2 separate regions of the Homo sapiens genome follow, and region 2 is linked to region 1. A link means that fine-mapping ties the variant in region 1 to the expression of a gene that starts in the linked region. Tissue or cell type: fibroblasts. Region 1 holds a variant in brackets; the other region holds the start of a gene. All regions are shown on one strand. Distances are from middle to middle.

Region 1 (5,545 bases):
CTATCATGAGATGATGGTAATTCCTTACAGAACTAGGGATAAAAAGAGCAATTTGTGAAATTATGATTACTCTTGGGACGGCTGAAGGAAGGGGCATGGTATAAGGCCTGACTCTATCCATGAGCAGAGTTGGCTCAAAAAGTTCATGTCTGATAAAGACTAAGTAGAATGAGAACTCATGCCATACTTTGTCTGTTCCTAGAGCCATTCCAATTCCCATCTTCTTTGATACTCATCTCACTCTGGGAATAACAGGTCCTAGCACAGAATTTTCTGTATAGTAGATCTGGCACTTGATTATGTTCAATTCAGTACCTTCATTTTAAATCTTCAGTATATACTGATGGTCTAATTACTTCATGAGAACAGTTCAGTGGCCTACTCCAATCAGCATTTGTATTGACAAATGCAGGAAGAAAGTGTCTAGAGTTTAACTGGCTGACACTGTCACAGACACTGAGGAATAATGAAATGATCACGGTCTTTATTCTTGAGTAAATAACTATTTAAACATGCAAGAACTTACATGAACTGCACAGTCTGAGGGAACAGTCCCCAGAAGACTGCTGTCACTTCAGAGTGGGAACCCCAGTGGGTTCCCAGGGCCACCATCACTTCATACCAACTGGCTACAAATTCAGACCATCCTCAGGTTTAATAATTTGCTAGAATGACTCAGTGAAAGCTATAAGATTCACTGCCATGTTTACTGTAGGCAAAGGTACAAATTAGTACCAGCCTAAGGAAGAAATGCATAGGAGGAAGAATCTGGGAAGTTTCCAAATGCAGAACTACTAGTCATCCCTTCCTTCCCCATGGAGCCACAGACTGCACAGTTCTCCAGTGTCAATGTCTGACAGTACACACAGAGTATTGCCAATCCAGGAAGCTCACCAGGCCTTCAGTATCCAAAGTTTTTATTGGGGTTGATCACATACATCCTGTGTGGCTGACCTTTACCATACCCTCCTGAAGGTCTGGGCTAGTGCCTCTACTCTCTTCGGGATGTGGCACATCCCTTCCAGGCACCTAGAGATCACCTCCCGATAGCCAAAGGAAATGCCAGAACTCTCTCTAGGCAAGTTTAATTCTTTGAAAAAACAGTTGAAGATACCAGGTTGAACCATAGGCAATTCCCAATATTTAATCATTTTGACATTAAAAAAAAGACAATTCCCTATGGTTCAACATAATAGGATGAAATTGTTCATTCATCAAATATTTACTGTGTGCATAGACTATGCAAAAAGTAAGATACTTGATAATGAGCTCCTGTGCCTTTGTAGTACAGATAATCTAGTAAACAGGTTAGAAAATGTTCATCTAACAAATATTTATGAAACATTGACCATGTGCTAATCCTTATTCCAGGTCATGGAAATGTAGTATTAAACAAGACCAAATGATCCCTGCCCTCGTGGAACTTTTAATGTTGTGGAGTTAGGAAGGGAAGGGGGCAGAAACAGACATTCAAGGAGTAAACCAGTAAATACGGCAATTTAATACAGTTGTAAGTTTTATAAAGAAAATAGTATAAGATAATGGGATAGAGATTCTAGAGGGGAGGTAAGGGCTAATTTAGATAGGATGATCAGGAAAGGCTCCTCTGAGAAAAGACCTTAGCACTAGAGCCTAAATAATGAGCAGGCACCAACCACGGAAGGATCTGGAAGCAGAGCCTTGCAGACAAATGGGACAGCTGATTAGTGGCAAGGAAAGCTGAGTTTACTGAAGAATATAATTGCCTATGTGGCTGAAGCCTATTGGACTAGGGGACAATCATAAGATATGATGTCAGAAAAGCTGGAAGGAGCCAGATCATGTGAGGCTTTATACATAATAGTAATAAGATTTTATTCCAAGTACAAAAGAACCAATGATCTCATAAAAAATTTAATATCACAGTTTTTAAATTAACAATAATATTGATACCAACATATCAGTGACAAGTGCTATAGAAGGAGCAAAACAAAGGGCTAGAGAAAGTAGGATAGTCCCTTCCAGCTCCAATAAAGCGAATTTTTAGAAAGTTGACATTTGCACAAGGCCTTGAAGGATGGCGAGTCCATCTATTAAATGGCCAGGGAAGGCGCTGATGGAATCCCAGTCCAGATGAGATGCAGCCATTCATGGAAGCACAGGAGCAGCTCAGTCAAGAACCTGGTCAAGGAACACACCCTCCAGCCCATCCAGAAGATGGGATGATAGGGATACAGGCAGAGTGGAACGTTACTCTAGAGAAGAAGATTTGGACTACGCCAAAACCAAATACCAAACTGAGGAAGTTGGGTTTTATTTACTAAATACTGGGAAGCTTATACAGAGTTTAAGTGACAAATATTATAAGCATAAATGTGCTTTAGGTAAAGGGTAACAGCACTATTGTATGTTAGAATGAGTGAATGACCAGAAAAAAAAAATTTACTTGCTAGTGCTAGAAATACATCTCAAACTAGCTTAAAGATTATTGACTCAGCAAGTGAGAAATCCAAGGGTAAAATACCTTGAGGAATGGCTGAATCCAAGGCCCTAAGGGATATTGCAACAGAAATGCCCACCAGGGTCCCTGCTTTCCTGTGAGTTATGCACCCTCCAAAGGAAAAATGGCCACCAATAGTTCCAACTTATTCTCGTAGCTCATGATCTCAGAGGGAGAGAGAGACCCTCTATCTTCCAGTATTCATATATTAAAGTTTAGAGAAAATAATAATAGGCATGACAATGACTAAAATTTATTGTTGCTTACCGTGTGACAAAAT[G/A]TGCTCCAAATACTTCACACAAAACATTTCATTTAACTGCCTCAAGAATCCTATGAGGTAATAATACTATGAGCCCCACTTTTCTGATTATAAAACAGAAAGGTGAAATTATTTTCCCACAATCACGTATTTACTAAGTGGTGGTACAAAATTCAAATCCAGGTGGATAAACTCTAGAACTAGCACGCTTATTTTACCATTTTTATTATAAAGAATTTTGAGGCCGGGTGCAGTGGCTCACACCTGTAATTCCAGCACTTTGGGAGGCCGACGCAGGCAGATCACGAGGTCAGGAGATCGAGACCATCCTGGCTAACATGGTGAAACCCTGTCTCTACTAAAAATACAAAAAATTAGCCGGGTGCAGTGGCGGGCGCCTGTAGTCCCAGCTACTTGGGAGGCTGAGGCAGGAGAATGGCGTGAACCCGGGAGGCGGAGCTTGCAGTGAGCGGAGATCCAGCCACTGTGCTCCAGCCTGGGTGACAGAGCGAGACTCTGTCTCAAAAAATAAATAAATAAATAAATAAATAAGAAAGAATTTTGAACATGTTCACATTAGTCAAACTAGTATAATGAATGCCCATAATATTCATTACTTAAGTCCATATAAGCCAATCCAGACTAAACCCTCCTCCGTGTTATTTTAAAGCAAACCAGACATAGCATCATTTACATTTAATCCATAAATTCTTCAGTATATATCTCATTTTAATAAGACCACAGTATAGTCTCACCTGACAAAATAAACAATAATTTCTTAATATCATTAAATAACCAGTCTATGTTCACATTTCCAATTAGCTCATAAATATCATACATCATTTTTATTTCTATATTATGGTGATGCAACAGCAAAATTCAGACTGTAGGAAAAACTACAGGATAACTAGTTTTCTTCAATAAGCAGAAAAATGTATAAATTAAAAAAAGAAAGAAAGAAATGTGGAAATATGGATTATAAGAGACTTAAAAGTTATTTCAAACAATCACTGTATGAACTTCATTTGGATCCTGAATACTGGAAATTGTTTAATTCTTTTTTGTGCACTAGGGATGGAGAGTCAAATTACTGTGTCTTCTAAAAGCCCCAGATTTCACTACCACACAATTTATCCATGTAACAATCCTGCACTTGTACCCCCTAAATCTATAAAAATAAAAATTTATTTAAGATATTTTTAAAAACAACAACAATTGTGCCTTAAAGCCATTGGGAAGAGTTCCTCTCTGTGAAGGTGTGCTCCTAACTGAACACACAAGATTTGTAAAAATTGCTTTTTTATTTTTTGTTTTGTAATTACGTAAAATATTTATGCAGCTCAGAAGTCAAGTTTACAAGGCAAATTCACTTCTGTGCCTATTCTCTTTACCCTACTTTCTCTCTCCCTTTTTATGTAGTAGCTGATTTTTATTTTACAGCTTATTCTTCCCTTGTATATATGTGCACCCTACCTTTCTCCAGTAAATAATAAATACTGTATACACTTTACTCTACATTGCTTTATTCCAGTGGGCAATATATCATAAAGATATTCCTCATTCCTTTAACAACTGCATAGAACCATATTGTGTGGAGTATCATAGTTTATTCAACTAGCTTCTTACTCTGGGAATTTGGAGTTGGTTCTAGTCTTATGCTACTCCAGTAGATATCCAATGAAAGCCATGTCCACACACCTTTCTGTAATTTTGCCAGTGGAATAAATTTCTAGAAGTGGAGTTGTTTTGTCAAAGAATAAATGCATATGGTGTTTTGTAAAACCATTTTGCAATCACATCAACAATGTATAAAAATGCCCTTCAGCTTCTCCAACTAAGTACATTGTCACACTTGAACCATTTACCCATCTAATAGTTGAGAAATGGTATTCGTTGTATTTAATTTGCATTTCTCTTACAATCAATGAAGTTGTGCATCTTTTTATATGGCTATAAGTCATATGCTTTTCTTTTTCTCCGAACTATGTTCATTTCTCTCAACCACATCTTTCTATGTGGTTGCTCTTCCCTGTTTTGGGACACTGTATATTAGAACAGGTAACACTGTCCGTGATGTGCAATGGAAATATGTTTTCCTAGTTTGTTATTTTTCTTTTTACTTTGCTTATCATGTTCCTTGATACATAAAGTTATATTTTTTCTAAATATAATTAAAAATATTATATTCTTTCCTTTATTGACTGTACATACATTCTACATTACCACATGCTATGGGCTGAATTGCATCCCCTCAAAACTCATGTGTTGGAATCCACACCCCCAGTACTTCAAAGTATGACTGTATTTGTAAATAGGGCCGTTAAAGGGTAATTAAGTTAAACGAGGCCTTATGGGTGGGTCCTAACCCAATATGACTGGTGTCCTTATAAGAAGAGAAGATTAGGACACAGACACTTGCAGAAGGAAGACCATGTGAAGACATCTGAAGATGGCCATCACAAACCAAGGAGAGGGACTCTTTGAAGAAATCAACCCTGTTGACACATTGATTTCAGACTTCCCACCTCCAGACCTATGAGCAAACAAATATCTGCTGTTTAACCTTCCCTGTCTGTAGTATTTTGTTATAGCAGCCTTAACAAATTAATAATATTACATATACTATTTTGAAGGGTGAATTTTTCATTCTTGTTTGTAGAAGAATAAATCACTATAATTAGCCATTTGTCTCTTAGACTTTTTTATTATATATATATTTTTTATTATACTTTAAGTTCTATTCCTCAGGGATCTAGAACTAGAAATACCATTTGATCCAGCCATCCCATTACTGGGTATATACCCAA
Region 2 (5,545 bases), 82 kb after region 1:
GGGGAATGATGATAGTAGAAGCAGTTCAGGCAATGCTACCAAAAAACTTAAATGGGATTTTCCATTTAGAATACCTTTTTAAAGTTTTTGATCATTTAAAATAGATTTATTAACACAATTATTTTGTTTTGTTCCATTATAATTACATCCCCCAAGAAATACAAATTAACACACTTATCCATTTCCAAAAAGCTCAAGATTGAGAAAAATTCTCTTAAATGAACTAGTTGTCATTTTCAGTACAGTCCCCAGCATATAAATTTATAAGGAATAGCAAATAAAGATGAAAAGAAAGTACATCATTAAATGCTTTGGTTTACGCTAAAGCTACCTTTAATTAAAACCGCCAATCACAATCCTAGGGGACTAGCACTTAGATTAAGAACAGGGGTAGCCCATTGCTAATCTAATTCCCTGGGCTTCCCCCTCGCCACTGCCCACCATCTAGGCCTAATAATACTCATTTTCCTTCTAAGTACATGAGACTTTTTTTTGTCCTAGTAATTTCCTTTGTCAGCTTCCTGTAGTTTGGGGCTAGGTTCTGCTTTCACCTACCCTATTAACATCAACATAACTGGTGGCAGATGAAAAGTAACAATCTCATACAGCCTTTTTAGAAGAGCATTCAGCTGGAAGCTCTGAGCACCATGTTCTGCTCTCATCAATGTCCATTGTGATCAGCTGTGTAGTCTTTGGTAACTCTTTGAAGCTACAGTTCACTTCAAAGGATTATTATTAGGAACAAGCAAGACAATGTGTAAGTGGCAAGGATTATGGGAGACAGTCAGTGTAGTATGAAGGCTTTGGAGACCAAAGACTCTGCCATACAATAGCTATATTACTTTGGGCAACCCTGTTGCTTTCTCCTCATTTACATAATGGGAATAACTTGTCTACCATGCCTGTCTCAGACAGATACTTTTGAAGACATTATTGAAGAAATTATAAAATGTCTGACACATAACAAGCTGTTAATAAATGATTTACCTAAATGCACTATACAAATTTAAGCCCTATAATTCCTTAGTAAAGATATAAAATTCAAACAATTCAGAAGTGACTGGGGCAAAGAACTCAGGTATACTAACATTCTATTCTCCTTTAAGATTTATTGCTCTTTTTTCCCTCTTGTTTTTAAGGTGAAACCATTTGGTATATTAGATGAAATCGTCACAGTGCACATTTAGAATATTATGAATTTAAGACTAAGAAATCACCAACACAAACCACACATTTGCAGTTTTTTGCAAGTGAATTTTTTTAAGTTTCAACATTAACATTTGTATTTTGCATTAAATTATTTTAAATAGCATTACACTAGCCTATACAAAATTTGTTATTGACCTATTTGATATTTGTGTGCTTATGGAAATGGAAAAGGTTTTTAATCCCAAACCACCATCATGACACAAGAGAAAGAGAGAGAGGAGAGAGAGAAAAAGAGAAAGGGAACACATAGTTGTGTTGAAAGTAAATCCAAGAAATCGCAAGTAGCCTTAACATTACCATCCAGGAAAGTCTGTTCAAGATAATCAATGATCTGAGTGGCCTCACAAATTATGTTTTCCCCGTGGATAAGGACAGGCACTTCTCCAGTTGAGTTCAAACGCATAAACCAAGGCTCATTGTGCTCACTCAAGGGCAGACTTACATCATGTTCCTCGCACTTCAATGCCTTTTCAGCAATTACCAAGCGCACCTGGAAGAGTTCACACTGGTTACTACAACACATGTAAGCTTTCAATTAAATGACTTCCCTGGACACCGCTAAGCAGCCTTTCTGGGCTTCCCTGTGTTACCGACATTTTCAACAGTCGTTTTAACAATTCCTATTCCTGGAATTAACAAGTAAGGAAAGAACAATACTCAACAAATTAAGAGAAGAACACAAAATAAGTAATGAAATGATTCTGACTGTATTCATTAAACAGTCACCCTCCTCATCACTACCACTTTCTCGGTGTCCTAAACCTGATTATGGGTCCTCCCCAGACAAGAACCTGACATGTAGGTACATCAGCTCTTGCTGAAGACAGTGAATGCGAGAGAGCAAAAGAAGAGATCGCAGATTATGAGGGTCCACAAAGGCACCTCCCTCTGCCTCTCTCCGAAGACCAGCAGGCAAGGCCTCCAGACCAAATACTGAAAATGATGCTTTTTTGTCGCATTTCGCGAGAGGCGGAGCCTGGGCCATAGCCACATAGGATCATCTCCGATCGATTCTCCCCGCTCCCCACCCGGGCGCGTCCCCGCCTGGAGGGAGCGCCTGCCCGGGGTCAGGACACTGGAGGCGGATTTCTAGGTGGACCGGCTTCCCTGGGCGGGACTCAGAAGGAGCTGTCCCAGTGCTGAAGCCCGATCCGCGCCACCCTCCGCCGCCAAGGCCTGTTGTACCTTTTGAGAGCTGAAGGAATGCGTCCAATGGTACAGAATGAGCTTAACCTCCGCGTCGGCCTTGCCTTCCGCCCTCAAGGGCGGGCTCCCTCTCTGCTCTTCCTGCCTCTCAGCCATCTTGGGGTGCGCGAGCACGGGTGCGCCCAGCCTGTCCGCCCTGGACTTCTCCCTCCCACACTGCCCCGCAAGGCGTTTCCGGGTTTTGAGGGGTACCTGCCGGAAGGAGGGCGCGCGGCCCGCTGGGAAATGTAGTTTCGCCGGCGGCAGAGTCTGCGAACACGCGGGGTCTGCGACTGGAAAGCCCCTGGCAAGCCTGGGAGTGCACCTGGGAGGTGCAATTGAACGGTTGTTTTTTGGGTTTGTTTTTTTTTTTAGAAGAAAAAATAAAAAATATGAGACCCTGGTTATGAAGGGCAGTAAGGAAGAATGATGATAGCAAATTACTCTTCGGTTTGGAGGTTGCTCAGGTATAAAAGCAGCAATTTCCCAAGATACTGAGGGTTGCTCTTGGAGCCTGTTCCTTTGTTGGAAAGGAAGTTCCGGTCGACAAGCAAAGCAACAGGAAAAGGATCTATGAGCTTTCATTAGAAGATGCTACTATGACATTAGTGGACTAATTCCACAAATTTGACTAACTGCTGTAGATTAGAGAATAGTCTTGTATAAACAGTAAGTACTTGATTTTGATAATTAAACTGTGCTTTGTAAAAGAAAAAAAAATACCACTATGGAGTCATGCAAAAAAACTGTTTTTGTCATAAACAGCTAATAAACAATGGCGATATAAAATAGCCTAGTTGTTAAACACAAAAATTCTACAACAGTACTGCCTAAGTTCATATCCTGGTTTTTCCATTTTCTAAGTAAGAATAATAATTTTATTGTTTCCCTCATAAGATTTTTGTGAAAAATTAATAATAAAATGTTAAACACTCAGAACACCCTGTCACGTTGTAGGCACTCAGTCTTAGTCACAGGTTCAGTTGTCTTATAAACATTCTGTTATAACCATAGTCAGAATCATAATTTTATATTAGTCTAGTTATTATTGTATGTCTTTAAAAATTTGGCATCATATAGTAAGTTGATTTTAAAAATCTCTTTCAGTAATATGTATAAATATGACCATAGAATAAATGCCTGTATAATTTATCTGGCAAATATTTATTGAGCACCTACACTGTTCCAGACATTGTGCTGGCTCCTGGTAATATAAAGATGTGTGAAATCTAATATCTAACACTCAAGATATAATCTGGCAGTAGAGACGACCAAGGAAATAGACAATCACAATAAAGATGAGAACTGTCTTAGGGTGAACACAGAGTACTATGAGAAAGGAGGGGCAGGCAGCCAACCCAGGTCAGAGAAGGGCCCCTGGAAAAGACAAAATCTCATGAGGTTCTTCCTTGCCTTTACAGTACTTCATTTGTTACTCTCTGTAATTCTTTCATAATTTTTTAAGATTTCATAATGTCTTTTATATCCTTCAGTTAATTCAAGTGCTATAGAAAAGGTGAATTCCTTGCCAAAATTGTTTTTATCAGTTCACACTTAAGAGTAAGAGCGGAAAGAGGAAAACTTTGAAATCGGACAGAGTGGGGTTTAAATTCTAGCTCTACCCTAACTTGAGCTTTCTTGAGCTTTGACTTCATTGTGTGTAAAAAATGGATACATAAAAATTATATGCCTACCCAGATGGCTGTGGGAATTCAAGAAAGGATATATATAAAGCACCTAGGGTATTGCCTGGAATGTAGCCATTGATAAAAACATATGTGTAAAAGCCCCTTCACTGACATTAGGAGGGCATTATATTACATTTCATCCTCTCTCTGTAGGTCTCAAAATTTTTACAACTACCCATATAATCCTCCTCTCCCATTCCTCTTCAGAACTTCATTTTTTAATTATCCACCTTCAGATTCCTAGTTTTCTATTCCATTACCTTCAATAGCAAACACCACGCTTACTTTTGCACCAACCTTAATACTAAATCATCCTAAATATTTGAATAAATTCCAGTACTCGTGATAAGCCATGTGTCACCTGCAGCTGAAAAAGTCCTGACAATAAAGCCCTGGTCCCTCAAACACAACACTTTTCTCCATCACATCCTGCCCACAGCAAAGCCATAGAAGAAACACTGAATGACTTGATTACTTGGTGTTTAGTACAAAGCATTCATAGATCTCATTGGGAGTGTAAACATGCACAGAACTTCTGAAGGCAAATGTATCAATATGCTTCAAGAATCGTGAAAATGGGCATAACTTCTAACCTAGAAATTCCTCTATTTGCAATTTAAGGAAATAATTCTGACAAATTCTGACAGTTGATCCTACCTATTTTTCCCTTCTTCCGTGGTAATAGAAATTTTAGCTGAGCACATGACTGCTGAGAATAAAGACTGTATTTCCTAGGCTCTATTGCAGCAAAACATGGTCTCCTAACTATCTTCTAACAAGGGGAAAGTCATGGATGTGCCACAGGGCAAGTGCTGGGAATCTTTCTTAAAGAGACAATTAGCCCTGTGCCTCTTCTTCATCCCATCCTCCATCCTGCTTCAGAGAGGATGGATTCTGACCTGGACCATGAAGAATGGGGCCACGCCTTAGGAACAGCTGGGCCATGAACTTGGGGAAAATTGAGCTTCTAAAGACACTGAGGAGCAGAACCCACACCAACTTGGGTCTGCAAACCTCCAAACTTTTACTTGAAAAGGAAAAAAAGGATCTTGTGTAAGGCACTGTTATTTGGTGCTTTCTGGATGCTATTGTCTTAACCTATCCTCATCAATACATCAATCTTGTAAAATATAGGTGGCTTTTATTTCTTTATGATTCTGTATACTCTAATTGTTTTATAATGAATGTGTGTTGCTTTTACCTGTTAAAGGTGTGAACACTAAAAGAATATCATTAAATAGATGACATAAGGAAAAATGTGTTTGTTTTATCACAATAGAACTGCTACATCTACTTCCAATGATCTATAATCACTTTTTTCCCATCCCAATAAAAGCCACTGTTGGTAATATAAAAACCTTATTATCCTTTCACATGTTTATTCAGAGCTCCTACTACACTGTGTATTCTGTGTCTATGGTTTTTGTAGATCATAGACATGATCATTGTGGGCTCCTTGAGGA

Evidence for each region. PIP is the estimated chance that this variant, and not a neighbour inherited with it, causes the effect.
Region 2: GDAP1 starts here. The variant in region 1 is fine-mapped to the expression of GDAP1 in fibroblasts (GTEx, PIP above 0.99). The same link has a PIP of 0.9 or more in subcutaneous fat.

The regions. Positions count from the first base shown.
Region 1 is chr8:74,429,216-74,434,760 of GRCh38, reverse strand. It overlaps a transcript of GDAP1 not described here. Among named protein-coding and RNA genes, the nearest start is that of GDAP1, 82 kb to the right of the region's middle. The variant G/A (reference allele first, on the strand shown) is at 2,760.
Region 2 is chr8:74,347,428-74,352,972 of GRCh38, reverse strand. GDAP1 (ganglioside induced differentiation associated protein 1) reads right to left here and starts at 2,570. Exons shown (of 6, transcript NM_018972.4): 1 at 2,395-2,570; 2 at 1,507-1,699. The coding sequence starts at 2,511. RefSeq lists an enhancer at 2,328-2,557.